7 linked regions of the Homo sapiens genome follow. The protein of the gene in region 1 purifies or fractionates together with the protein of each later gene. This does not show direct contact. Each region holds a gene or a part of one and is shown in the gene's direction. Other genes may lie near its edges.

Region 1 (3,617 bases):
CAATAAATACATTGGAGACCTCTACTATGCCTGAGAATCGTATGCCATAAATTAGCACAAATGGCCGTGGCATCCATGTGGACAGTGTTTTTTGTTATTTATTTTCAAGAATAATTAATTAACAAAATATGTTTTTCTTGAGGTTCTTTTACATTTCTGTCAAGGGATCATCCTTAAGTTGTGTGTGCGCTTATGAGTGTATGTGCATGCATGATTGTATGTATTTGGGGATTTATTTCTACATTTTCAACAGAAATTTATCTTTGTTATTTCAAAGTTTTCAAGGTTTGTTGATGCTTCTCTTTACTAATTTATTTCAGAGAGTATCATCCTTTAACAATTTGCTTTAAGTTGCCTTGAAAGCTGGGCAGCAAGGGTTAGAACAGTAGTAAACTGCGGCACTGATGTCCAACCTGGTAGGCCTTATCTTCATGGCTCATGCTATTGTTTTGAATTGTACCAAAACACTGCTCCTTCTAGGTCTGTACATAATGCTCCAACTTGTCATTAGTTGACCAAAGCCATCTTAGCATGCAGGCAAAGAAGATGCATGGCTGTTTCTGGGCTTTAGGATTTCTTCTCTGTTGAAACATGGCTGAACCAAAGGAGAAGCTGCAGCTTTCCACCACCAAGAAAACATCAGAGATGGGAAGGGTGGAAGAGAGTCTGCTCTGCCAAGTCCACCTGAGAGGCTGACTCTTAATGGGCTCAATACGGAATGGCCCTGCATTCCAGCATGGCATGATAGGACATTCTTACTATAGGCCAGGCAGGTCCCAAAGATACTAACCACCTGGAATTCTAATTGAGGGTGTAACTTCTTACTTTTCACTTTGTCATTTCAGGGAGTGATAGTCAACCATTTCTCGGGGCAAATAGGCCTACGGCTATTGTTCTTTGTCATCTCAGATTTCCTTTTTACTTTACAGCTTCACTTCTGTGGTCTGTTGGTGTTGTTAAAAGAAGTCTTCTGTGTAACAGGATATGACAAGAATGACATTTCTTGTTTTATTTACCCCGGCTTTTATGCTGACTTTTTAGGGCTGCCTTAGCATGTGTCCCGTTCTGTATGAACACATGCAGCCACCAGTTTTCGATTCTTCTTTGTTTAGAGTGGAAATTGAAATGTTTTCTCCAGAACTTTTAGCGGCTCCCTTTCCTTTTGAATCTGGAAGTCAGCTACTCTTGTAGGACACTCTACATTATATCACTGTATTAGTCCGTTCTTGCATTGCTATAAAGAAACACCTGAGACTGGGTCATTTATAAAGAAAAGAGATTTAATTGGCTTACGGTTCCATAGGCTGTTCAGGAAGCATGATGCTGGCGTCTTCTTGGCTTCTGGGGAGGGCTCAGGAAACTTACAATCATGGCAGAAGGCAAAGAGGGAATGAGGCATCTCACATGGTGGTTGCAGGAGCAAGAAAGAGAGGGGGGAGGTGCTACACAGTTTTAGACAAGCAGATCTCATGAGAACTCACTATCACAAGAACAGCACTAAGGGGATGGCACTAAACCATTCATGAAGGATCCACCCCCATGATTTAATCACCTCCCCTCTCCAACATGGGGGCTCACAGTTTGATATGAGATTTGGGTGAGACACAGACTCAAACCATATCAATTGCCACGTGGTTTAATATTAAGTATACTGAGGAGTAGAATAATGTTCTGGTTAAGAGTGCAAGCCCTAGGAAAACTACTGGGTTAGAATCCTACTTTTCACCATTTTCTTTCTCTGTGACCATGGGCAAGAAATTGTCCTCAGTTTACCAGTAAAATGAGGCTTACCTTAATATGACTTACCTTAAGGCTTATGGTGAAGATTGAATGCTTGAACACAAGTTATAGGAGTACCTGGCTGATAGTGCACACTCAGTATGGGTTTGCTACTGTTTGTATTATGTAAAGCTTATCACAACCCTATCAAAGCATCAAGACACTTATTATCTATCATTTTACTAAAACCAAAAAAAAAAAAATGAGCTCAGAAGATCTACCATGACTTGCTCACCTATGACAAAGGCAGTTCCATAAGCCCAGTCTTCTCAGCTTTAGTCCAATTTTTTTCCCATTCTATGACATTGCTGTTGTAGTCTCTGATCAGTAAACTAAGAAGCATTTCATTGGCCTCTGGTATAAAAGAGACACAGAACCAAAGAATAATGTCCTAGGATATTGAATGAAACTTCTTCAAAGAACCCTAAGTAATAAAATGTGAGTGGTTAAAACCTTAAGGATAATTCTGGGTAGAAATGAGGTACTGTAGATAGCTGGGTAGAAATGAGGTACTGTAGATAAGCAGGAGGTGGTGGGTGGGAAACAGAGAAAGTAAAAGAGGAGGAAAAAAAATGGAAATACATGGATGAGAAAAGTCTAACATGTTGGTAGGATTAGAACCAGAATAGAAATTATTAGGTTGGTGCAGCCGGGCGCGGTGGCTCACGCCTGTAATCCCAGCACTTTGGGAGGCCGAGGCGGGCGGATCATGAGGTCAGGAGATCGAGGTCATCCTGGCTAACATGGTCAAACCCCGTCTCTACTAAAAATCAAAAAAAAAAAATTAGCCAGGCGTGGTGGCGGGTGCCTGTAGTCCCAGCTACTCAGGAGGTTGAGGAAGGAGAATGGTGTGAACCCGGGAGGCAGGGCTTGCAGTGAGCCGAGATCACGCCACTGCACTCCAGCCTGGGGACAGAGTAAGACTCCGTCTCAAAAAAAAAAAAAAAAAAAAAAAAGAAATTATTAGGTTGGTGCAAAATGAATTGCGGGTTTTACAATTTAATAAATGAGTGAAAAAGGTGATTGTGATGTATAATTCGAAGCACCTGCTTTTCACCCCAGCTCACCACATGGCCTATTAGTATACAAGAGAAAAATGATGAGTAATGAAACAACTGTATAATGAAACAACTGTTCTGACCCATTGCGTTTTACCATCACAATTTTCATTTTATTTTAGATTTCGAGAACGTGCTTCAGAGGGAGAGAGAGGGCCAGAGACATAAATATTTTCATATCAAATGAGCAGACCCATGTTTTGATAAAATGCTTGCAGTTTTTCCTCAGCTCTAACTGAAACCACAGGATGAGCGCCCATTTACGTTCATTTTCAAAACACATATGTTCTTCAGAAGCTGGTGTCCTTTGAAAAATATCACCTAGAAACTTCAGAGTTCACTGCTATGAAATGTCTTGCCTAAAAACCCCAGGACTGGCCTGAATTTGAGTCCTTTCTGCATTAATTGTTAAGAGATCTCTTTTGTAATATGGATATTGAAATTACCTTGTTTCTTGGTTTTGTTTTTTGTTTCCTCTTGCCTAGATACACAGTACTGTTTGACAGTTCATCACTTCACCAGCCACGGAAGAAGCACATCCATCACCAAAAAGTGTGCCTCCAGAAGTGAATGTCATTTTGTCGGTTGCCACCACAGCCGAGATTCTGAACATACGGTAAGGATCGTGTGTGTGTGTTATTGTCTAAACTTTCATCCTAGTAATGTAAGTCGTAGATCAAAGGAGAGGCAGGAAGGATAGTAATATGTGGACCATGTTTACATTTTGAGGAAAGACTCCATACAAAGATAAAATGGAGACCAAAGAACAGACTCCATACA
Region 2 (4,085 bases), on another chromosome or scaffold:
CATAGCATTTACATTGTATTAGGCATTACGTGTAATCTAGAGATGATTTAAGGTATATGGAAGGATGTGAGTAGGTTCTATGCAAATACTATGCCATTTTATGTTAGAGACTTGCATATTCTTAGATTTTGGTATCCTCGGGGAGTCCTGGAACCTATCCCCCTACAGATACTAGGGGGTGGGTATATCTTTTGCCAAAATCTTATCAGTATCAGAATGACCACAGATAATGCTTTCATCTTGGACCCTAGCAAAGCCTGGGGCCGTCGTATCTTTTTTTGTTAATTTCTTTTTTTCTTCTTTTTTTTTTCCTGTGGTTTTTCAGAGATAGCCCTCATCAAGTGCTAGAGCACTACTTCTTAAACTATCCATAGTAAGAGAATAACATTTTTTCCTTAACCTGTTGCCAATCAATATGTTGTCCTACTCCTATGACTAATATGTATCTTTTTTTTTTTGAGACAGTCTCGCTCTATTGCCCAGGCTGGAGTGCAGTGGTGCAATCTCAGCTTACCACAACCTCTGCCTCCTGGGTTCAAGCGATTCTCCTGCCTCAGCCTCCTGAGTAGTTGGCACTACAGGCGTGTATCACCATGCCTGGCTAATTTTTGTATTTTTAGTAGAGATGGGGTTTCACTATGTTGGCCAAGCTGGTCTCGAACTCCTGACCTCATGATCCACCCACCTCAGGCTCCCAAAGTGCTGTAATATGTATTTTGTACTACATGTGGCACACCACAGGAGTTTGATGAACCCCAAGCTGGCTTATACCATGTTCAGTGAAATGAGACTGATACATGCTCAAATGTCATGGCCATGTCAAATTACTGCAAGTTGTTGAACACTTAATTTCTGTACTTATAGGTTATTAACAGTCTTCAGACCACAAGTTTAGTTGCACTGTAGTTGAGAGTCTCATTTTGTCTGTCTAGGCACACTTGCTTTTAGTCAGGAAAAGTGGCACTGCTTGAAGGCTCTGTATGATTCTGAGCTCCATTGGGAATGGGAGTTCTGATTGCCCTTTCCAAAGAGCTGCCAAATTCTCACCCTCAGCTGCCTTTGGGTCAAGATAAGGCCTGTTTCCCCTTTGGGGCTAGACTCCTCTGCACCTATATCTTCCTTTCTCTTTTCTTCCTCAGACTGAGTAAGCTCATTGACTTACCTTCAAATTCATTAATTCTTTCTTCTAACTGCTCAAATATGCTGTTGAGCTCCTCTCATTAATTTTTTATTTCAATTATTATACTTTTGAATTCCAAAATTTTTATTTGGTTCTTTTTGTAATTTTTATCTGTTTATTGATTTGTCTTCATGCCTTCCTTTATTTAGACATCGTTTCTTTTAGCTATTGGAACATATACCCTAAATTCCTCTGTTTTATTCATCCATCTGTGTGTGTCTCTTAATTCTGTCACCTTTTCTCTGAAGCCACTGCCTCTGACTTAGTTCAGTCCACAATAAACTCATACCTGGATTATCTGAATTACTGTAGAAACCTAATTTCTTCAAGTATTATTTGCTCCAGACTTTCTCTCCTTTCCTCTTGGATTTTTAGTTACCTATATGCTAGATCTTTTTCATATATTCCTAATCTCTCTCACACTTTGTTTGGTTTGTTTATTCTTTTCTTTGTAGTTTAGTTACTATAACAGTTGATCTGTTGTCACGTTTACTAATCCCTGTCTCTTCTGCGTACAGTCTGCAATTAAACCCACCCAATAAGTTCTTAGAGTTCTTAATTATAAATATTATATTTTAAAAACCTTAAATATCTCTTTGATTCTTTTTAAACAGATTTTAGTTCTGTCAAAATTTTTCTTTTTAGAAATTTTTGTACTTTTTAAAAAATATATTGATAGTTATTTTAAAGTCCTTGTCTAAGTAATCTTTGGGGTTTTTTATTGTCTTTTTTTTTTTTCCTGTTTCATTTCAATATTTGGTCCTTTTCTCTTTGCATGACTTTTTTTTTTTTTTGTGAGAGCCAGAAATTGATGAAAAGCTGTAGAAGCAAAGAGCTAAGGTTTGTTCTGGTATCCTCAGTGCCAGATGCTCACTTGCTTCTGTTGAAGCTTGTTTTTAGGCTTTGTGAAGGCTCTACTATTTTTGTGTCTTACTTCTAGGATCTGGCCTTACTGGGTCTCAAATGAAAGTCTACAGTGTATATAGTACTATATAGTACTTGGACTTTGGTCTCTGTCTTCTCAGTACTATTTTATAGCTGTGGTTTCAACCTCTCCGTTTCTCTTTCCTTCTGGCTTTTGTAGAGGTGTTACCATGTATATGTGCAGGATAGGAGTCAGCAAATGACTTGAGAGGAATTTGTATGGAGATTTTTCTGGTTTCCTGCAGTTTCCTTCTCTCCTACCCTCTCACCCTGCATCCTGCCCTCAAATCTCAGCACTTTGGCAGCCCGTACTTTGACTTCTGCTTTCCAACTCAGTATTTCTCCAGGACGCAATCTGGGGACCCAGGGATGAAGTTTAGGTGAATGTGGAGCTTGCTGCTTATGCCTCCTGCTTTCAAGGACCATAATGCCTCACTTCTTGATTGGTGGTTGCTTCCCCGACCACATGCCTCTAAACAGCAGTTTATATGTTTTCTCCAGCTTGTATAGTGGATTAGAACTTGATTTCTAAGATGTTGATTTTATAATTTAATTTTTATAAGCCATTTTATTTTCCTTATATCCAAGCCTTTAAATTGAGAGGGGAGGTGGAGAGGGCTTCATTTACTGCTGATAATTAAAATAAATATTCATCTCTCTTAAGTGGTTTATGGAGAGTAATTTTCATACAATTTTACGTTGGGATATGAAAAACAAACACAAGTGAAAGGAATTGTTTTTGAGAGAAGGCTTAATGTAAAAGGCTACACAAGTATAAAATTGTTGCACATAATGTATTCCTTAATTTAGAGAATATTAAACTAGCTCCTCTATTTAATCAGAAATATAGAAAATTCTATGTATATTTTTATTTATCACGATATAGTAAAAATCTGGCTTTGAAAATGATTTCAGTGTTAATATAGCTTTCACAAGTGTCTGCGTTCTTTTCTAGTGGATTAATGACTTAGAAAATGATGATTTGTATATTACATGGCCTACAAGTTGCCAGAAACTTCTGAAGCCAGTATTTCCTGGAAGTGTACCTTCCATAAGGCGCAATTTTCATAATTTGGTGAGTTTTATATTTTGATTATACATATATATCTTATAAAGATATCAGCATTCTTTCTGGATTATCCTTCTGTCAATGAATAGGCATCTGAGTTGTAAGGAAGTTAAGTATTTGCCTGAAGCAGCAAGCTTAGGTGGCATGGCTGACTGGGTATCAACAACTAGCCATGTCACTGTATTAGTCCGTTCTCATGCTGCTAATAAAGACATACCTGAGACTGGGTAATTTATAAAGGAAAGAGGTATAATTGACTCCCCAGCATGGCTGGGGAGGCCTCAGGAAACTTACAGTCATGGCAGAAGGGGAAGCAAACGTGCTTCTTCACATAGTGGCAGGAAGGAGAAGTATGAGCAAAAGGGGAAAGCCCCTTATAAAACCATCAGATGTCCTGAGAAGTCACTATCACAAGAATAGCATAGAGGCAACTGCCTCCATGATTTAATTACCTCCTACTGGGTCCCTCCTACGGCACATGGGGATTATGAGAACTACAATTGAAGATGAGATTTGAGTGGGCACACAGCCAAACCATATTAGTCACATGTTCTGCCTCTTACTCTTTAGCCCTTATGTCATTTTATAATAACCATATTAATGTTACTTTTACATTTTTTCAAAAGAATTTATGACAGAACTTTTTCTTCTTTATTAAAAAGAACTAATGATTAAAGTGTAGTAATTTTAGGGAAAGATACATAAATACCACTTTATCATCTATGCATATAATTTTATTAGCCCAATAATATCTAAACATTAATATTGGAACTTTGAAAGTTGGAGAAAATACCTACGGCTGTTTTTTCACATAGGAAATGAATAAGATATTTTTTGCAGCAGTCTTGATAAAGCAGTTATGTTAATGCTATTTTTTTTTGGTCAAAATTCAATCTCTATTTCCTTTTGAAA
Region 3 (4,085 bases), on another chromosome or scaffold:
GGCCCACCTCCATTTTACTTTCTGTCTCTGTGGATTTGACTACTCCAGGGGCCTCACATGGGTGGAACCCTGCAGTGTTTGTCCTCTCTGTCTGGCTTATTTCAGTAGCATCATGTTTTCAAGGTTCGTTCACGTTACAGCATACATCAGAATTTCCTTACTCTTTTTTTTGTTTTTGAGACAGAGTCTCGCTCTATTTCCCAGGCTGGGGTGCAATGGCACTATCTCGGCTCACTGCAACCTCCGCTTCCCAGGTTCAAGCGATTCTCCTGCCTCAGCCTCTCAAGTAGCTGGGATTATAGGCACACGCCACCACACCTGGCTAATTTTTTTTTGTATTTTTAGTACAGACAGGGTTTCACCACGTTGACCAGGCTGGTCTCCAACTTCTGACCTCAGGTGATCCGCCCACCTCAGCCTCCCAAAGTGTTGGGATTACAGGCGTGAGCCACCACACCCGGCCCAAAATGTCCTTACTTTTTAAGGATGAATAATATTTCATTGTATGAATGTAGCACATTTTGTTTATTGTTGCATCTCTTTGTTTATAGTTTTTTGGTTTGTTTTTTTTTTTTTTGAGACAAAGTCTTGCTCTGTTTCCCAGGCTGGAGTGCGATCATGACTCACTGCAACCTCGATCTCCTGGGGTCAAGTGATCCTCTCGCCTCAGCCTCCCAAAGTGCTGAGATCAACTACAGGTGTGTGCCACCACACCCAGCTAATTTTTTTATTTTTTGGTAAAGAAGTCTCACCATGTTGCCCAGGCTGGTCTTGAACTCCGAGGCTCAAGCAATCCTCCTGCCTCAGCCTCCCAAAGTACTGGGATTATAGGCGTGAGCCACTGTGCCCAGCCTATATTTTTATTCCTAAGTAAAATTATTTTCCCTTACTTCCTTCTACGGCCTCCTCTGCTTGCCCAGCTAGGCTGAACCACAGGAGGCCAGGACAGGATTCTCAATCTCAGCACTATTAACATTTGGGGATGGACCATTCTTTGTTGTGGGGGCCTACCTTATGCATTATAGGATATTCAGCTGCATCCCTGGCCCCCACCCTCTACATGCCACAGCACCCGCTCCAGTCGCGGGGTCTCTGGACATTGCCACATGTGCCCAGGGGAGGTGGGGTAGATTGCCCCTGCTTGAGAACCACTGGGCTCAAAGAGCTTTCTGCAGTGATGGAAGCGGTCTCTGCACCATCCAGTCCAGCAGCCCCCAGCCTTGTGGCTCATGAGCACCCGAGATATGGCTAGTGCAGCCGAGGAGCTGCATTTTAAATTTTATTTCATTTCAAGTAATTTTAGTATAAATGTAAACAGCCACATGTGGCCGGCAGCCGCAGTCTAGCATGGCACTGACTCAGCCAGTTAAGGAACATTATTCCCCTCCTCCCTGGGGAAGTAGGAATCTGATCACAAACTTAAGAAAAAAAGAATAGACAAGGCCTGGTGCAGTGGCTCATGGCTGTAATCCCAGCAATGTAGGAGGCTGAGGCGGGCGGATTGCTTGAGGTCAGGAGTTCAAGACCAGCCTTGCCAACATGGTAAAACCCTGTCTGTACTAAAAATACAAAAATTAGCTGGGCGTGGTGGCAAGTGCCTGTAGTCCCAGCTACTCAGGAGGCTGAGGCATGAGAATCATTTGAACCCAGGAGGCAGAGATTGCAGCAAGCTGAGATCACGCCACTGTACTCCAGCCTGGGTGACTGAGCAAGACCCCATCTCACAAAAAAAAAAGAGAAAAGAAAGAAGAGACAAGACAATTCCCCTAGCCTGGTACTATAGTTTGTTCCAAAAGGCAACTGTAATCATAAACATATACTCCAAATCCAAATATCCATGATTGGGGGATTTTCTTCTGGTTTAGGTGACATGTACTTTTTTCCCTTCTAAAAATCAATGTGTGCTTAGTGAGCACCTGTTAGGTGCCCAGCCCCGTGTTAGAGACAATGGGAGATTCCCACGGTGAGATCCTTGGCTCTGGTCATCATGGAGCACACAGATGTTCCGAATGGGGAGACTGGAAAAGAAAGAAAATAGATTTTGCTTGTGGAGAATTGTGAATAGTAAGTGAATGCTTAGAAGGTGCAAAAGGGGCCGGGCGAGGTGGCTCACGCCTGTAATCCTAGCACTTTGGGAGGCCGAGACGGGCAGATCATGAGGTCAGGAGATTGAGACCATCCTGGCTAACACAGTGAAACCCCGTTTCCACTGAAAATACAAAAAAAAAATTAGCCGGGCGTGGTGGCGGGCGCCTGTAGTCCCAGCTACTCAAGAGGCTGAGGCAGGAGAATGGCGTGAACCCGGGAGGCGGAACTTGTAGTGAGCCGAGATCGTGCCACTGCACTCCAGTCTGGGCGACAGAGTGAGACTCCATCTCAAAAAAAAAAAAAAAAAAAGAAGGTACAAAAGGAAGAGAGACTCTCACAGGTCCAAGGGTCTAGACAGACTTGCTGCTGGAAGAAGGTGGTGTCCTTGCCTATGGATGGGGAGGAGGTCATTGCAGGGAGGAAGATGCAGGGCTGTGAGTTGGGCAGGGAAGACTCCTGTTATCTCCCCTTGGGTAAGATCTTCCCTCCCTTCCTTAACATGCTCACAGCTCCTGCTTTGCTGGGTATCTCGGTCATCAAGACTTCTATCCCTCTCCTTGGGGATAATAGGAGACTTCCCCCCCTTTTAAGATGCATTTCTGGACTTCCTAAAATGTTTTATTATGAGCACTTTTCTTATTCTCATTCCAAGACAGAGTCTCCCTCTGTTGCCCAGGCTGGAATGCAGTGGTGTGATCTTGGCTCACAGCAACCTCTGCCTCCTGGGCAATTCTCGTGCCTCAGCCACCCAAGTAGCTGGGATTACAGATGTGTGCCCCCATACCTGGCTAATTTTTGTATTTTTAGTAGATACGGGGTTTCACCATGTTGGCCAGGCTGGTCTTGAACTCCTGACTTCAGGTGATCTGCCCGCCTAGGCCTTCCAAAGTGCTGGGATTACAGGCGTGAGCCACCGCGCCCGGCCTACAATTCAGTGGTTTTAGTATGTCACAGAGTTCTGCAACCATCACTACAGTCAAAAAGAAATCCTGTATTCTTGAGCTATTACCCTCCTGACTCCCCTCCCCCTCCCCCAGCCCTAAGCAGCCACTGGTATACTTCCCGTCTCTATAGATTTCTCTATGCTGGGCTTTCCTGGGAACGGAATCATACGTGTGACCCTGTGTAACCGGCTTCTTTCGTGTTTCCAAGGGTCATCCATGTTACAGTGTGTATCAGAATTTCATTCCTTTCTATGACTGAGTATTCCACTGTATGGATAGACCACGTTTTGTTTATCCGGTCATCATTTGATGTGCATTTGGGTTGTTGCCACCGTTTGGCCATTGTGACAAATACTGCAATGAACATTGGTGTGTGAGATTTTGCAGGGACCTGTTCTCATTTTTCCTGGGTGTATCCCTGGCAGTGGAATTGGTGGGGTCGGGGGTGGGGAGGGGTTGGGTGACTTTAGGTTTAACCATTTGAGGAGCTGGCAGACCGTTTTCCAAAGCAGCTGCACCATTTTACACGCCCAGTATTATCTATGATTTTTACAATAAGAAAAAAAAAATCAAATGGAGAAGGGTAGAGGGACAAAAACCACCTGTGGTGCAAAGATCTTACCAGCTAACTAATGCCCTCAAAAAAAACACAGAGGAGGCAGGAGAGCTGGGGTGGCCGCACAGCACGCACGGTGGCGCGTGGCAGAGGCATGGTCTGCAGTGTGGCATTCGGGGGCTGCTGCAGCTGTGCACAGAACAGAGCACGGGAGGAAATTTCCCAGCGTGTCAGCATCTGCTGTGTCTCCTTTTCAGTTCTTTCCTGTATTAAACCTTTAAAATTATGGCATTTATTACGTTTGTCATCAGAAAAATAAAATCTGGAGAGACAAGAAAGGAGACAGAATCCCCCGTGGTGCAGGGAACTTACTTCCAGTTTTCTGCATCCTGTTTGTTCCTATCCACAGGGAACAGCCTTTAAAGTAAGTCCCAGCCGTCCCAGCTCAGTTTCGTCACACTGCCCTCTAGGGGCTTTCTGGCCAAACTGCAGCGCTG
Region 4 (4,085 bases), about 95 Mb from region 1:
TTGAGTATTGAAATTGAAGTACACAATAAATGCAAGTGGTTTTATTTGTAAATGAATCTTGAAATCTTGACAAGTTACCAAACTCATCAGTGAGAACCAGTTAGAGAGAGTGATAGAAGAGGTTTTACTTTGTTGTTAAGTGATCATTCAAAATGGGAACCAAAATTTCTTTGTAGTGAGAAAGTTGATTTTCCATAAGGGGAAAAAAAAGGAACTGATTTTGGAGAACATGAATTTCTTTGATAAAGTTGTATAATGTAATAGCACAATAAGACATATTTCATATTTGATTTTTTCAAAAATTTTATTTCTGAGAGCAATTTTAGGTTCACAGCAAAATTGAATGGAAAGTATAGAGTTCCTGTATACCCTCTGTCTCTACACATGCATACATTTGATTTTTCATGATGATGTCACACATATACTTTTTTTTCAAAAATATTTGAGGCCCTTACTGTTTTCCAGAGATCTCTCAGTAATTTCTTGAAAACAGCTTGTCGTTTTCTTTTCACTAGTTAATTGGCTATTTCTTCCTGAACATCACTGGCCAATGAGCATATGTGTGTTTCTGATTTGAAGTTTTCTAATATTTAAACTCTTTTCATTACATATTTTTTATTATGAAAAATATCAAATATTCAAAAGACAATATAATGAACCTCATCACCTATCTTCACTTAATTAACTCATGGCCAGTTATGTTCTTTTCATCATCCCCTTTCCCCATTGTTTTTGAAGTATATTATTTATTCATGAATGTTTCCAGTATATATCTTCAAAGGAAAAGGAATTTTTTAAAAAAAGCAATACCAATACTATTATAAAACCTAAAAAAATTAACATCTATTATCACTTTGATCAATCTCATAAGGTTCTGCTTCTTTGCCAAATTTGTGATTTTACTTCTGAGTTTCCATTTCATTTGCATTTTTTTGCCTAAGGTTTACTGTAATCAAATCTCATGGACAGAGATCAAGAAAATAGCTCATTAATGAACATTTTCACATTATGACATCTTTCATTTCTGCCTTTTACCTTTGAAGACTTAGACTCAATCCTGGGGTAACAAGTATTCTCTTAAGTTACCTTCATTTAAAAAATGAAGACACAAGAGGCTCATAGGTTAGTGTACAGTCATGGGTTAATACAGTGTAGTAGAGGCAGACATCAATCTTCTTTGAACACAATTTTTTGAGTGCAATGCGTGGGCTGGGCACTGGTTTTGGCGTTTGGGATGTATCAGCGCAAGTTTTCTGCCCTCTGGAAGTTTCAGTGCGCTCTTTCTTTTTTGTGTGTTTTTTTTTGAAGAGATGGTCTTGGTCTCTTACCCAGGCTGGAATCATAGGGAGTGCAATCATACCCCCCTGTTTTAACCTTGAGCTCCTGGCCTCGAGCGATCCTCCCATCTCAGGCTCCTGGTTAGCTTGGACTACAGACATATACCACCACGCCAAGCTAATTTTTAAAGTTTTTCTTGAGACAAAGTCTCACTATGTTGCTCAGGCTGGCCTTGAACTCTTGGGCTCAAGTGATCCTCCACCTTTGCCTCCTGAAAGTGTTGGGAAAGTGTTGGGATTACATGCGTGAGCCACTGCATATGGTATGTGTCCTTTTTTTTTTTTTTTTGACACTGAGTCTCGCTCTGTTACCCAGGCTGGAGTGCAGTGGCGCGATCTCGGCTCACTGCAGCCTCCACTTCCTGGGTTCAAGTGATTTTCCTGTTTCAGCCTCCTGCGTAGCTGGGACTACAGGTGCAGCCACCATGCCTGGCGAATTTTTCTGTTTTTAATAGAGATGGGGTTTCACCTTATTGGCCAGGATGGTCTCGATCTCCAGACCTCATGATCCGCCTGCCTCAGCCTCCCAAAGTGCTGGGATTACAGGCGTGAGCCACCGTGCCCAGCTGTGTGCTTTATTCAGTGCACATTTTTGTTCATTTAGGACAGACTAGGCCAGGTGGTAACTTCATCAAAAACATTGAAGAAAATAGGAATTCTGAATGTATTATTTGAAAAGAAAATCTCATTCTGACCACTGTGTTTTAATGCCTTACTTTGAGGCACTAAGAAAGGCAGTTAGAAAAAAGAAATGTACCGTTTGATGTTCTGAGATCTGAATGTCACTTAAGAATGGTTTTCCCAAGTGTTCTTTCTGCAGTGTTGTAAAATAAAATTGTATTTGAAATACCTGTTGTTAATTGAAGTGGAGGCAAATTTTTACTGTTTTTTTTTTTTTGGCAAGCTTGTAAATAAGCATATAACTATATAACTTCTAAGAACTGTTTTTCTTATGGAACCTGGGAATTAACTTTTTTCTGCTAAATGAGACTTATTTTTAGAGAATCCCTTTCGCCCCTGTAAAAAGTAGAGGTTCCTCTTCAAAGACTTTCCTCCCCATCTAATTAGGAATAAATAGTAACTTCTCTTACAAGCAAAATTTATTCAAAGACCCTTGCAAACATTCTTAAATATCTGCTAGCCATAATGAAGAAATCAATGTACTTTATGTTCTTAGCTCCCACAATTTAGCCTAAATATTTGCCCTGGCATGCTTATACTGGTCCAAGCAAGCATTAGGTCATAGCCTGTTCCTCTTCCTTATTTGAAGGTGTTTTTATCTTTCTCAGCATTCCACAAGTTACTTCCTCCTTCCTTTGTTCTCTGCCTTTGCCTCTTTTAAAAAGTTCTAAGTTGCTAGCCAATCGGGACAAATACAGAATGTGAGGTCCCGTTCTAGCAAGTGGAAACCGGACACAACAGTAGGGTGGACGCTTCGGGTTATAAATGACCCTGTCTCCTTTGTTGGGTGTACTCTCCTGGCAAAACTGCTGGCGAGTGTACCTTTTCTGCAGAAAGTATAAAAATGGCCTTGCTGAGGAAATTAAATTTATGTTGAAGTGCTGTTTCTTTACAGCAATGGGGAATGAGCATTTCAAACATCCCCCTTCCCCCCCTTATTTTTAGACAGTCTTGCTCTGTCGCCCAGGTTGGAGTGCAGTGGCGCTGTCACAGCTCACTGCAAACTCAACCTCCCAGGCTCAAGCGATCTTCCCATCTCAGCCTCTGGAGTAGCTGGGACCACGGGCATGTATCAGCACACCCAGCTAGGTTTTTATTATTTTATTTTTATTTTTGTAGAGACAGGGTCTCACTATGTTGCCACGGCTGGTCGCAAACTCCTGGGCTCAAATCTTCCTGCCTCGCCCTCCCAAAGTGCTGGGATTACAGGCATAAGCCACTGCACCTAGCGCCTCTTCCCTCCTTTTCAAATACAAAAATCCTAATCTATGTTTCTGTCTAACCTTTGTAGAAAATTAGATCAAAATCTCATTCTATATGAACACCAAACTGAGAGCATGGTAGTAAAAACGGTAAGCAAACAACAACAGCAACAGAAAACCTCTACATTCATTGAGACCTCTATTGGAATGTTAAAAGCAGCACATACTATAAATATTCCCATTTGGAACCTTGAGGTTGACTACTTCTGTATTTGGTTTACACTTAACATTTCTTCTCTCTCTTTCTTTGAGACTGAGTCTTGCTCTGTCACCCAGGCTGGAGTGCAATTGTACCATCTTGCCTCACTGCAACCTCTGCCTCCCAGGTTCAAGCGATTCTCCTGCCTCAGCCTCCTGGGTAGCTAGGATTACAGGCATGCGCCACCATGCCCAGCTAGTTTTGTACTTTTAGTAGAGACTGGGTTTCTCCATGTTGGTCAGGCTGGTCTCGAACTCCTCACCTCACGTGATCCGCCTGCCTTGGCCTCCCAGAGTGCTGGGATTACAGGTATGAGCCACCGCGCCTGGCCAGTCCAGTGGTTTTCAAACCAGGTGATACATCTGTGGAACATAAAAAAAAATTCAAAAGCAACTGGTACCCAGAGCCCCACTGAAGAACCGTTAAGTTATAGCATCTTTCATGTACGTTTATCAGTCTGTCACCATAGCCTTGTGAAGAAAGCCAGATTTTATGGAGATTAAATGACTTCCCCAAGGGACTGACAGAGCAGTTTGAGTTCTTAACAGAGTTGTAGAACCATGCTGTTCCTGCTTACTTGGCTACTGGTTGAAATCAATAAATGTT
Region 5 (4,085 bases), on another chromosome or scaffold:
GAGTCAGTTACATAACTGTTAACACTGTATACATTTTATCCATAATAATAAGCTAAAGCTGAGCTACAGAATCAAGGTTTTCACACTCAGTTGACATAGCATTTTAATTTATGGAAAAATAAAATATTTTGGAAGATTTGGGAATTAAAAGCAGAAGTAGTTAAAAGTTTGTTTTTCAAAGCAGGTAAAATTGGGAAAAGCAAGAATTTTTAAAGTGATATTCTTGAACATATTGATCAATTATAAGTTTTTAGGAAAACTTAGCAAGAAGACTCTAGCTTACATTCAGCTTCCACTGAATCTCAACTAATTCTAGTTGTTTCTTAAATATATTTATGAGTAAAGTATTTGGAACTTTATTTTTTAAAGCTATCTAATGCATTTTAATTACTGCATTTCAAATTGCTAAATTCCTTTCAATATTTAATGTAAGTATTAAATGTGACAATCATTTGAATTATTGAAGAAGAAAAAATATCTTTGGTGGTCATGTGATGATTATTGAAACATTATGCAGTACTTTTACTCATAAATTATTTATAGGAAGTAAGGAAATATTTTTAACTGGGAGATTATTGAGAGAATTTTGGTTGACTAAGCTATAGATAATTAGAATATTTCCATGTTATCAAGACATTATCACTATTGAGAAAAATGATTTGGTGTTAGATGTAACATCTGAAGGTTATGACTGTAGTTGTTCTGATAACAGCTTTTTCATTATTCTGGAGTTCAACGTTTCAGGAGTAAGGACTTAATTTGTTTCTGTTTTTGTTTTTTGTCCAATCTCTTTTGCATTTGCCATAGCCTAAGTCCAAATGTGTTTGTGAATATTGGGAATTGTCCATTGGGTGAATGTAGTAGATGGAAATGTCAGCTTAGGACCATGATTTCTATTATTTCCCTGCATAGAGATAGAGAAAATGATAAAGTATACTTCTGTCTATGCTTGCCTTGCTGTGGATACCTTTTTATGTAAATGTTTATCCCTTTACATGTCCTCCCTCATTTTTACTGATATCAAAGAAACGGACAATGGGAATATGAAAATTTGCTACGCTCCATCTCTGGTTGAACCTAATTGTCTGCCTTCTCTTAGTCTACAGTGGAATCACTGAATGATAATGAAGAAAGTTATGACCACAAATTTCAATGGGTGCTCAACACTGTGCATCAGAGCAGCCTCACACTGTTGCTCTCCAGCTGTACAAAATGACTATTTTACACTTTCATGTCTCTCAAACTTTAATACTTCCCTTCATCCCCGCCCCACTTCCAGATTCTAACCTTTCATTCACAATGAAAAGTACTCGTTTTCCTACTGTCAATAATTTCCCAGCTTTCCAACATCTGTACTCACATTGTGATAGAAGCAGAAAGCTCCTATCAAAAGCTAGTCAATGTAGTTGCTATCCCTTTCCAGCTTCTCAAAGATTTCGCCCCTTCTCTTGCATTATCATTGCCTTTTTTTGCCAAATTGTTTCTTTTGGCCTTAACATGCTCTTATTATCTCCTTTCTTTAAAAATTTTCTCTTAATTATCTCACATTCCCCTTCAGCTATTGCCTTATTTCTCTGCTGCTTTCGTAATGAGAATCCTCAGAAGAGTTGTTGATAGATGCTCTCTCCATTTTCTTGCCATCCTTCATTTATTTATTAACCAACCCCCATCTGCTTTTCAACCCCCTTTTCCTCTGAAACTTTTAATCAAAGTCACTAGTGACATTCACCAGTTTAAAGGATATTTCTCTGTTAGTACCTTACTAGATTTTTCGACCCGGTTGCATTTAACATAGGCTGTCACTCCTTCTTGAAACACTTTCCTTTCTTGGTATCTATGATATCATATTTGCCTATTTACTCTTATTAATTCTGGTGGGTTTTCAGTAACTGTTGTTCGTGTTTCTTGTTCTATCTCCTTCTGAATATTATAATCAAACCCCTTAGTTTGGGCTCTCTTCTCTTCTCTTTACATACACTCTTTCTCTGGGTGATTGTGTCAGTTCCTCATAGCTTTTAATATCTCCTGTAAATTCATGACTCACAAATATATATATCAGCAATCTGATCTTCTACCCTGAATTCCAGACCCTTATGCCTGATGTCTGACTGCTATTTTGACAGTATGTTTTTGTTATTGTTGTACATCTTTTTTTTTTTTTTTTTTTTTTTTTTTAAAGACAGTCTCACTCTGTCACCCAGGCTGGAGTGCAGTGCACAATCTCAGGTCACTGCAGCCTCCCCCTCCTGGGTTCAAGCAATTCTCCTGCCTCAGCCTCCCAAGTAGCTGGGATTACAGGTTCCTGCCACCACACCCAGCAAATTTTTGTATTTTTAGTAGAGATGGGGTTCCCCATGTTGGTCAGGCTGGTCTTGAACTCCTAACCTCAAGCAGTCCATCCGCCTCGGCCTCCCAAAATGCTGGGATTACAGGCATGAGCCACTGCACCCGGCCTATTGTTGTACGTCATAAATCTACATGTTCAAACTAAAACTTAATGCAGCCTCCTACCCTTCCTGTTCCGTAATTGGCTCCTTCTTGGTCCATTTGCTTATTTGAATAACCTGTGAGTTTTTCTTGATTCCTTCCTTTTCCTCAAGTCCCATGCCAGCTCATCAGCAAGTTCTTTTGTTCCTGTATCTAAACTATAACCTGGGTCTTTTCATCTCACCATCATTTCTTGTCTCCTAATTAATCTGCCTGTACCTACTGTTGTTCCATTATAATGTATTCTCCATGCAGGAGCCAGAATGAGTATTTTAACATGTTAAATCAGATTATATAACTTTGCTGTTTAAATCCCTTCAGAAGTTCCTAATTGCATTTGGAAATACAACTACAAAAGAAAAAAAAATCAAACTCCTCACTGTGGACGTATAAGAATTTATATGGCCTGCCCTTCCCTGTCTCTCTAGCCTCATCTCATTCAATTTTCTCAGTACTTGATGATTGTTACACTCTAGATGTACTACTGATTTCTTTCGGTTATCAGAGAATTTCCGTGCCAAATTCTGCCCTGCCCTGCCCTGCCCTCCCCCGCCCCACCCCGCCTCCACCCTGCCCCCACCCCCTCCCCTCCCCCCTCCCTCCCTCCCTTCCTCCCACTTGCTTGCTTTCTCTCTCTCTCTTTCTCTCTCTCTTTTCTTTCTTTTCTTCCTTCTTTTCTTTTCTCCTTCCTTCCTTTCTTTCTTTTTCTTCTTTTTAGACAGAGTCTTGCACTGTTGCCCAGGCTGGAGTGCAGTGGCGTGATCTCGGCTCACTGCAAGCTCTGCCTCCTGGGTTCACGCCATTCTCCTGCCTCAGCCTCCCAAGTAGCTGGGACTACAGGCGCCTGCCACCATGCCCGGCTAATTTTTTATACTTTTAGTAGAGACAGGGTTTCACCGTGTTGGCCACGATGGTCTCAATCTCCTGACCTTGTGATCCGCCCTCCTCGGCCTCCCAAAGTGCTGGGATTACAGGCGTGAGCCACTGTGCCCTGCCATTTTCTTTTCTTTCTCTTCTCTTCTCTTCTTCTTTCCTTCCTTCCTCCCTTCCTTCCTTCCTTCCTTCCTTCCTTCCTTCCTTCCTTCCTTTCTTTCTTTCTTTCTCTCTCTCTCTTTTGTTTCTTTCTGTCTCTCTCTCTTTCTTTCTTTCTGTCTCTCTCTCTTCCTTCCTCCCTCCCTCCCTTCCTTCACTTCTTCCCTCCCTTCCTTCCTTCCTTCTTTCCTCCATCCCTTCTTTCCTTCTCCTCTTTCTCCTTTTTCTCCTTTCCCATCTTTCTCTCTTTCCTGTCTTTTCTTTTCTTTCCCTCTTTCCTTCTTACACTTTGTTCTTAGTGTTATTCTCTGTATGCTTGGGAAGCCCTTGTCCTGGCTTATCACTTGGCCAACTTCCTTTTCCTTGAGTCTCAGCTCAAATGCCATATAAGACAAGTCTTTCATAACTACCCTAGGTAAAGTCCTCTTTCCTTTTTCTTCTTGCTGAAATTTTATTCTCTTCTATATAACCCTGTTTATTTTGTGAAAAGCAATTATAAAAATTTATAATTTTCTTTTACTATGATAAGCTCTCTTGAAGACAGGATATTGTCTATCTTGTTGTCT
Region 6 (4,085 bases), on another chromosome or scaffold:
CTCAACCCTGGCTGTATATTAAAGTCTCTCATGTGATTCTAATGCACAGCCAAGACGGAGGAGAAGTGCTCTGAATTGGGAGAAGCAATAGCAAGCAGGGCTGAGAGCAGCAGGGGAGCCAGGTCGGGTGGCGGTGGAGAGCCTTGCCTCGGGAGGCTGGGGCGTGGAGTTCCCGTCCCACCCATCACTCCTGCATGACCTTCGGCAACTCTGTTACCCCACCAGTGAAGTGGACAGTAAGGGGCCGTAACTTTCTACTAATAACCTTGCTCTTCAAAGTGCAGTCCCAGATGCCAGCTTCAGCAGCACCTTGGAGCTTGTTGGAAGTGGAGAATCTCAGTGCCCACCTGGAATCTGAATTTGTATTTTAACAAGATCCCCAGGTGATTCATGTATTCATTAAAATGTATAAAGCCCTGGTCTGTATGATTGATTTGACTCAGTGTCCTCCAGTCTGTGTCCCTCCATGCCGCACTGGCTGCCTCACTGAGGACTCTGAAGAGTCCGGCACTGAGCGAACCAGAGTTATTTGGTTCAGCCCAACATTTGCCACATGTATAGTCTCAGATGCCCTGTTGTTTATGGAGCAGCTAGTGCCATTTCTCAAAACACAGTTTGGGAAACACAGCCCTAATTGATCCTTTAAGGAAGTGGCAATTAGCCTAATTGTCTGTTGTCAGCTTTAACTTTTAGGTCTATTAACTTAATTACATTGATTGTATATGTGGGAAAAGTACAGGACAGGAAAAAAACCTCCAACGCTGGCTGTCTTTGTTTAAAAAAAATCTTGACCCACGGGAGAGGCAGGGTGAACTCAGGGTTCTCCATACAGCCAAGAGCCAGGGGACATGTGGGGTCCTTTACAGATACCTCTTCTCCCTCTGAGTGGGCATGATCCTTCCTGTTTTATGTCCAGGGAAACCGACCCTCAGAAATGCTGGGAAACAGCTGGTGCCTCTGACAGCGTAATCCTCATGCCCTTGACAATTAGCCTTCCTCCTGGCACCTGCCAGGCAGCACAGCTACACAGGAAGGCAGATCCGCTTGAAATGGACAAACCATTCTGTTTCTCCAAAAGGTGGAAACCCTATTCGAGATGAGAGGCCTGGCTGTAATTACAGTTAGTAAAGTCAGAGGACCCGGATGTCCCTGATGTACTGGGGACTGGCGTTGTGATAGCCCCTCCATGCATTAGCTTTCCTTTCTCAGATTCTGGTCTGGGTCTTGAATATCTTTGGAGGAGGAGAAGTAATGCTCATCTTATTAGCAATACCTCACGGCCCTTCAGCTTGTAATGTCTTGAGCACTGGGCTAGGCATGTCATTGGACTTATAAAATCACACTGGCCTTACAGACAGATACAATGATTCATGATTTATTTTCTTTGTTTTATTTTTAAAGTTAGCATATGATAAAATTAATGTGTGTTTGTGCACTCTTCTATGAAAGTTAAGGCTTGTTTATCATGTAATCACCACCATCCAGATACAGGACAGCTCCATCTCTATCACCCCTCACATCTCATGCTGTCACTTTATAGTCATACTATTAATTTGGTTATTTTTTGTGTGGTAAGAATACCTAACATCAGAGCACCCTCTTTTTTGAGACGGAGATTCCTTCTTGTTGCTCAGGCTGGAGTGCAATGGCGCAATCTCGGCTCACTGCAACCTCCACTTCCCAGGTTCAAGCAATTCTGCCTCAGCCTCCCAAGTAGCTGGGATTACAGGCATGCACCATCAAGCCCAGCTAATTTTGTATTTTTAGTGGAGATGGGGTTTCACCATATTTGCCTATTTTAGATACTTCATGTAAGTGGAATCATGCAGTCTTCATTCTGTGTCTGCCTTATTTCACATAACGTAATGTCCACCAGTTTCATCAATGGTGTCACAAATGACAGAATTTCCTTTTTTAAGGCTGAGTAATATTTCAAGGTGTATATATACCAATATTTACCCATTAATAGACATTTAGGTTGTTTCCACATCTTGGCAGTTATGAATAATGCTGCAGTGAGCATGGGAGTGCAGATGTCTCTGAGATCCTGATTTCAATTCTTTTGGATAAATACCCCAAAGTGGGACCGCTGGATCCTATGGTAGCTCTATTTTTAATTTGTTGAGAAATCTTCCTCCTGTTTTCCATAGTGGCTGCACTATCTTTCCTCCCCACCAACGGTGTACAAGCATTCCCTCTCCCCACATCTTGCCAACATGTCTTTTGTTTTTCTGGTAATAGCCATCCTAACAGGTATGAGGTGCCATTTCATTGTGATTTTTATTTGCATTTCCCTGATGAATAGAGATTTTGAGCATCTTTTCAAGATCTTGGCCATTTGTATGTCTTGTTTGGAGAAATATCCATTCACATTTTTTGTGCTTTTTAAAATTGGAGGGTTTTTGGCCAGGCATGGTGACTCACACCTGTAATCCCAGCACTTTGGGAGGCCAAGGTGGGTGGATCACCTGAGGTCAGGAGTTCGAGACCAACCTGGCCAACATGGAGAAACCCCATCTCTACTAAAAATACAAAAATTAGCTGGGCATGGTGGTATGCGCCTGTAGTCCCAGCTAGTTGGGAGGCTGAGGCAGGAGAATTGCTTGAACCTCCGGGAGGCGGAGGTTGCAGTGAGCCGAGATTGTGCCACTGCACTCCAGCCTGGGTGACAGAGTGAAACTCCGTCTCAAAAATTAAATAAAATAAAATAGAAGTTTATTTTTGCCACTGAGTTTAAGGAGTTGCTTATATATTCTGGATATTAGCCCCTTATCAGGTGTATGGTTTGCAAATGTTTTCTTCCATTCTGTAGTTGCGTTTTCACTCCGTTAATGTTTTCTTTATTCAGTTTTAAAATGGTAAGCCAAGGCACAGAGCTGGAATGGGAGTGGCCCAGGACACAGCTGGTGAGGTGCAGAGCTGGGGTCCCAGAGCCTGGCACCTCACATGGTGCTATCCTGCTTTGCTGATTTTTCTTGCTGATTTTTATTATTCTTCACTAGATCTTCTCTCCCCTCCCACTTTCACACCAACATATAGAATTACCTAAAGTATCCTTTAAGAACTTTGGGAAACCCTGGTGATATTTGGCGTGTTTTGATGTCTTGCTGGGTCCAAGAGTATGTTCATGGTGTGCAGAAAGAGTCTCCAAGTCTTCAGGGGAAAGTGGTATGTAGCGGTCCAACCCTGGCCACCCTTTCTGAATGGTCTTCGCCCTTGCAAACCCCTCTGGGGACTGACCACAGGTCCCCTGCGGAACGCTGTGAAGTGCCCTTGGAACTGACCCTCACATTGCACTCATTCGGCAGAACTCTCTGGATTGAAATCCCTTCCTCAGTGTTTACCAGCTGTGGGGCCCAGGACAAGACACTTTGCCTCTGCAAGCCTCAGTTTTCCTCATCTGCAAATTGGGGTGCTCATACTTTCTTTGCGGGGATTTTGTGAGGGTGAGATGAGCTCATGTGGAATGTGAGACAAGTATACTTGGAGGCGGGAGGACATTTCCCTCTCCTCTGCCTTTCCTGGCGGCATAGTCCTGTGCACCTCACCGAGCCGTGATAGATGGCAGTAGTGGGTCTTCTGGTAGGTGGACGTGGTAAAACCAGGGCCTCCGGGGTTTGCAGGGCACAGATACAATCACATGGGAACACCTGAGATGGTCAGACCCAGAGTTAGACCCCTCTCCCTTTGTGGTACCCACACAGCCATAGACGTCAAACACCAGTCTGTGGTAAGGGAGAAAGTGGCCAGAGGGTCACACACTCAGGCGCCCCTACCTATCAGCAAGTACCTCAGTCGGTGATTGGGCAAGATGTGGGCCATGGCCACCTGGAGCGCGAGGCCCTGTGGGGAAGGGACAGCTGACATGCAGCTCTGTTGCTTACTGCCTACAGATGCCCTGATTTTTCAAGAGACAATGAAAATCTGATAAATTGCGTGAAAATGGTTGGCCACTGATCTCAATTTTATTTCTGTTAAACACCAAACAAATCCTTCTGAGGGCTGACGATAGCCTATGACAGGCAGGGTGCCGCCTCTGTGTCGCACATGGCAGTGTGACCAGGACAAGCTCGGGGTGGGCAGGA
Region 7 (4,085 bases), on another chromosome or scaffold:
GAAATGGTTTCTCTCGGATGCCTCATCTCCTACTACTTTCCCCCTTTGCAGCTTCTGTCTACTTTCTAAACTGGGATAAAGGAGAGAAAAAGTTTATTTTTCTTAAAGCCATGCTCAGTTCTGTCTAAATCAGAACAGGGTCACCATTGACACCACTCTCACCCTTGGTAATTCTTCATCTCTCCAGTGTGAATTGAGGAATCCTTTGAGTCTTATTATCAAGCCAGGGAACTTTATGAAGCAATCCACTCAGGTCTTTTATATCACTGCATAACTTCTGTTTTCACTGTGATTAAAATAAGATAATTGAAGGTGTTCATGTGTCATACTCAAAACAATTTTGTTTTGCTGGACATATCCTAATGACCAAGGATTTTGTCCTTTTGTTTTTTGAGATGGATTCTCACTCTATTGTCCAGGCTGGAGTGCAGTGGCACAATCACGGCTCACTGCAGCCTATACCTCCTGAGCTCAAGCCATCTTCCTGCCTCTGTCTCCCAAGTAGCTGGGACTTTAGGTGGGCACCACCACACCTGGCTAATTTTTTAAATTACATTTTTTTGTAGATACGGAGGAGTCTTGCTATGTTGCCCAGGCTGATCTCAGACTCCTGAACTCAAGCGATCCTTCCACCTTGGCCTCCCAAAGTGCTGAAGTTATAAACATGTTGCCACTGTGCCTGGCTTATTTTGTCTCTTTTTTTGATCCCACCCTATCCCTTTGAGTGTGGTGAGATGCATGGGAACAGAAGGCTGTATTCCCTCAAATGAGTTAATTTGGAAAATGCCTTCCTGTACTGACTACATATCCTTCAGACCTGAGTTGTGTTTAATATCCTTCCTAAGCACTTATGGAGTTCCTGATGCCATACCTTCAGTGAAGTGTCTTTGTAGAATTTTTTATTATTCAAATGTGCAGTGGAGAAACGTAACTGAAATGATTCTTCATAATGTTCTATTAAAGCTATCAAATGCCTGTTTTCTTTGAACTGGTTAGCCAGCCAGCTCTGGCATCAGGTGTGTTAGTCTGACAAAAGTTGTCTTTATCTTGGCCGGGTGTGGTGGCACTTTGGGAGGCTGAGGTACGTGGATCACTTGAGGCCAGGAGTTCGAGACTAGCCTGGCCAACATGGTGAAACCCCATCTCTATTAAAAAATACAAAAATTAGCTGACTGTGATGACACTTGTCTGTAATCCCAGCTACTCGGGAGGCTGAGGCATGAGAATTGCTTGAACCCAGGAGGCGGAGGTTACAGTGAGCTGAGATCGCGCCACTGCGCTCAGCCTGGGTGACAGAGTAAGACTCTGTCTCAAAAAAAAGTTGTCTTTATCTCTTCAGTGGGTGGTGTAGGGGAGTAATTTCTTTAAGATAGTACTTTTTGAGCTCTGTTTTCAGCCAAATTGCAGTTGGTTTTACATTGGGGGGGGAGGTTCAACATTTTTGATACCCTGTGAGTTTTGTGGTCCTATTCAAGATTAACATCTTTTTTTTTTTTTTAGGTTTTTAAAATGTTATTACTAGAGCTTGTTAGGAATCAAGATACAATGTATAGCTGTCACTTCAGGGATCTCTTTGTTTCCTGTTCTTTGTGTTTTTGATGGCTAATAATTCCTTTCCTTGCACTTCATGGGAAAGCAGTGTAGAATAATGAGAGAGCATGGGTTTTGAGTCCTGGCTTTACCACTTTCTGCCTTTCACCTTTGGCAGGTTTTTTAAACCCTTAGTGTTATCTGTAAAAGGAGGATTTTAACTGTTCTTACCTTGTAGAGTTATTGTGGAAATTAAGTGAGATAGTGTATATAAAATACTTAGCACATCCGTAGCACATGTTAGGCATTCAGGAAATGGTAGCTATGATTATACCTTCTGTCTGCCCTCCATCCCTTAAAGAAATTCTGTGAATAAGAACCAAGTGAGATCATTTTGACCATGTTTACATTTGCTAAATTTAAACTGGAGAGTAACATTTTAGAGATCTTTTTCTTCCCTTTTTTTCTTTATAAGGATTTAGACATTAAAAAAAAAAAAAAGCTATTGAGAGTATATTGTGTTCCAGGCTCTGAGAATACAAAAGTGTATAGTCCCTGTGACCCAGTGAGGGAGACAATACATACAGTCAGGTAACCATGATGCAGTGTATTATATAGTTTTATATCATTAATAGCAACAGCAATAGCTAATTTTTATGAAGTACTTGCTAGGTACCAGGCACTGTGCACTGTGCTATGTTTTATAATTACACTATTTACTTCTCATACCAACCTGTGAAATAGATACTTTCACCATCTTAATTTTACAATTTAGCAAACTAATAAGGCTTTAGAGAGGTTAAATTATTTGCCCAGTGCCTTCCAGTATTAAGTGGAAAAGTGAGGATTAAAATAAAGTAGCCTGACTCCATTCTCCCTTGGATAATAAGGATTCACCTTATTGGGTAAGGAAAAAAAGCATTTGCCTACATACATTTGTATTTAGTCTAAATCCAGTCAGCTTGTTTTTTGTTGTTGTTGTTGTTTGTTTGTTTGTTTGTTTGTTTTTTGAGATGGAGTCTTCCTCTGTTCACCCAGGCTAGAGTGCAATGGCACCATCTCGGCTCACTGCAACCTCTGCCTCCTGGATTCAAGTGATCTCTTGCCTCAGCCTCCCAAGTAGCTGGGATTACTTAGCCTGGCTAAGTTTTGTACTTTTAGTAGAGATGGGGTTTCACAATGTTGGCCAGGCTGGTCTCGGACTCCTAACCTCAAATGATCCATCTGCCTCAGCCTCCCAAAGTGCTGGGATTATAGGTGTGAGCCACTGCACCTGACCAGAACCAATCAGCTTGTGATTTGAAGTACAGTACACCTTTAAGAATAAGGCCACAATCTGCTTTGGGATTGAGTTCAGGGATTAAGGCAAATAAAAATAAGTTTATATCACTGAAGAAGAGACAGTTTTATAATGAGCCATGTATTTGTAATTTAGCCCTAAAGAATTTTGTTGGCCTGTCATTTACTATTTGTATGGCACTTAACATCTTTGAACTCTAGTTTTCTAATCTGAAGGACATTGGTTTCTGGATTGAGGGTCTGCTTAGTGCTGCAATAAAAAGATGAGTGGCAATAGCAGTTTTACAGTGGGTGAAAATTGACCTGTGTAAGGGATATCATCTTGAAATTTTAGATACTGGCAACATAAAGAACTTTTTCTAGATTTCCAGAAGGAAAGGTGTTCAACATAAATCACATCATTTATACAAACAGTTGAGGCACAGTGAGCCATTCTTATCACTGAGGGAATGTATTTATATCAGTGTAGGGATTTGTTTTATCAGCCAGCTTGTCAGATACCAGCCAAGGGCCAACCTTGCAAACAAGCCTTGCTAAAGATGGCAGTCTTGGACCCAGGTTCACTTATTTCTGCACACTGCCCTTCTTTTTAATTTATCCTGTGAGGTCCCACATAAAAGAAACTAATTTTTGCTTTCTCTTTTTATTATTACAAAAGGAAAGCAATTTGCAATTAGTGTTGAGGAAGACAAAATTGAGGCAAAAAAAAAAAAAAGATAGCTTTTAAAATACCCGAATTAGTAGTAGAGAGAACATGAGGAGCAGCATACATTTTAGTTGATGAGCAGTTTTTGAGCATGATGAGAAGTAATAATCAGAAAAAGAAGCACCTAATAGCAACTCCCCTTCTTCCAGATGGTTCTCCATACTGTAGTAGAGACATTACTTGCTTCGAAATGGGCTGTGTTGCCGTAAAGTCAAATTATAACCTTTCTTGTGATTTCATGTAATTCACTGGAAATGTTTCTTTTCCACTTACTGAAGATTGCTTCTAGGTACCAGGCAGTGAAGTTAGAGCTGAGGCTATTTCAATACATTGTAATGGCTGCTTCTGCATTTTATTCTCCCAAATTGGTTAAGACATTATCCTCTGACTTTTAAAGGCAAGTTTCTTTTCTGTGATGCAATGCAGGCAGTGAAGTGTGGCTAGGTGTCTGAGAATATGATTTTCCTGTTTTTGAATGACCCATAATTTTTAAATGACTTTATTCTGACTTTATTTCACAAATAATTCAAATGCTATGGTGGATTTGGCT

The links.
Region 2: the proteins of LYPD6B (region 1) and UGGT2 purify together in Homo sapiens (affinity purification with mass spectrometry; one large-scale study listed by BioGRID and IntAct). This does not show direct contact.
Region 3: the proteins of LYPD6B (region 1) and TIMP2 purify together in Homo sapiens (affinity purification with mass spectrometry; one large-scale study listed by BioGRID and IntAct). This does not show direct contact.
Region 4: the proteins of LYPD6B (region 1) and PSME4 purify together in Homo sapiens (affinity purification with mass spectrometry; one large-scale study listed by BioGRID and IntAct). This does not show direct contact.
Region 5: the proteins of LYPD6B (region 1) and DCAF6 purify together in Homo sapiens (affinity purification with mass spectrometry; one large-scale study listed by BioGRID and IntAct). This does not show direct contact.
Region 6: the proteins of LYPD6B (region 1) and ERGIC1 purify together in Homo sapiens (affinity purification with mass spectrometry; one large-scale study listed by BioGRID and IntAct). This does not show direct contact.
Region 7: the proteins of LYPD6B (region 1) and SPCS2 purify together in Homo sapiens (affinity purification with mass spectrometry; one large-scale study listed by BioGRID and IntAct). This does not show direct contact.

Annotation. Positions count from the first base shown.
Region 1 is NC_000002.12:149,209,670-149,213,286, forward strand, and holds part of LYPD6B (ly6/PLAUR domain-containing protein 6B), read left to right. Parts: intron 1-3,322; coding exon 3,323-3,453; intron 3,454-3,617. UniProt on the Homo sapiens protein: Likely acts as a modulator of nicotinic acetylcholine receptors (nAChRs) activity. In vitro acts on nAChRs in a subtype- and stoichiometry-dependent manner.
Region 2 is NC_000013.11:95,948,429-95,952,513, reverse strand, and holds part of UGGT2 (UDP-glucose:glycoprotein glucosyltransferase 2 precursor), read left to right. Parts: intron 1-3,059; coding exon 3,060-3,179; intron 3,180-4,085. UniProt on the Homo sapiens protein: Recognizes glycoproteins with minor folding defects. Reglucosylates single N-glycans near the misfolded part of the protein, thus providing quality control for protein folding in the endoplasmic reticulum.
Region 3 is NC_000017.11:78,865,907-78,869,991, reverse strand, and holds part of TIMP2 (metalloproteinase inhibitor 2 precursor), read left to right. Parts: intron 1-1,761; exon of another isoform or gene 1,762-2,018; intron 2,019-4,085. UniProt on the Homo sapiens protein: Complexes with metalloproteinases (such as collagenases) and irreversibly inactivates them by binding to their catalytic zinc cofactor. Known to act on MMP-1, MMP-2, MMP-3, MMP-7, MMP-8, MMP-9, MMP-10, MMP-13, MMP-14, MMP-15, MMP-16 and MMP-19.
Region 4 is NC_000002.12:53,960,551-53,964,635, reverse strand, and holds part of PSME4 (proteasome activator complex subunit 4), read left to right. Parts: intron 1-4,085. UniProt on the Homo sapiens protein: Associated component of the proteasome that specifically recognizes acetylated histones and promotes ATP- and ubiquitin-independent degradation of core histones during spermatogenesis and DNA damage response.
Region 5 is NC_000001.11:168,005,815-168,009,899, forward strand, and holds part of DCAF6 (DDB1- and CUL4-associated factor 6), read left to right. Parts: intron 1-4,085. UniProt on the Homo sapiens protein: Ligand-dependent coactivator of nuclear receptors. Enhance transcriptional activity of the nuclear receptors NR3C1 and AR. May function as a substrate receptor for CUL4-DDB1 E3 ubiquitin-protein ligase complex.
Region 6 is NC_000005.10:172,840,458-172,844,542, forward strand, and holds part of ERGIC1 (endoplasmic reticulum-Golgi intermediate compartment protein 1), read left to right. Parts: exon of another isoform or gene 1-413; intron 414-4,085. UniProt on the Homo sapiens protein: Possible role in transport between endoplasmic reticulum and Golgi.
Region 7 is NC_000011.10:74,959,019-74,963,103, forward strand, and holds part of SPCS2 (signal peptidase complex subunit 2), read left to right. Parts: intron 1-4,085. UniProt on the Homo sapiens protein: Component of the signal peptidase complex (SPC) which catalyzes the cleavage of N-terminal signal sequences from nascent proteins as they are translocated into the lumen of the endoplasmic reticulum.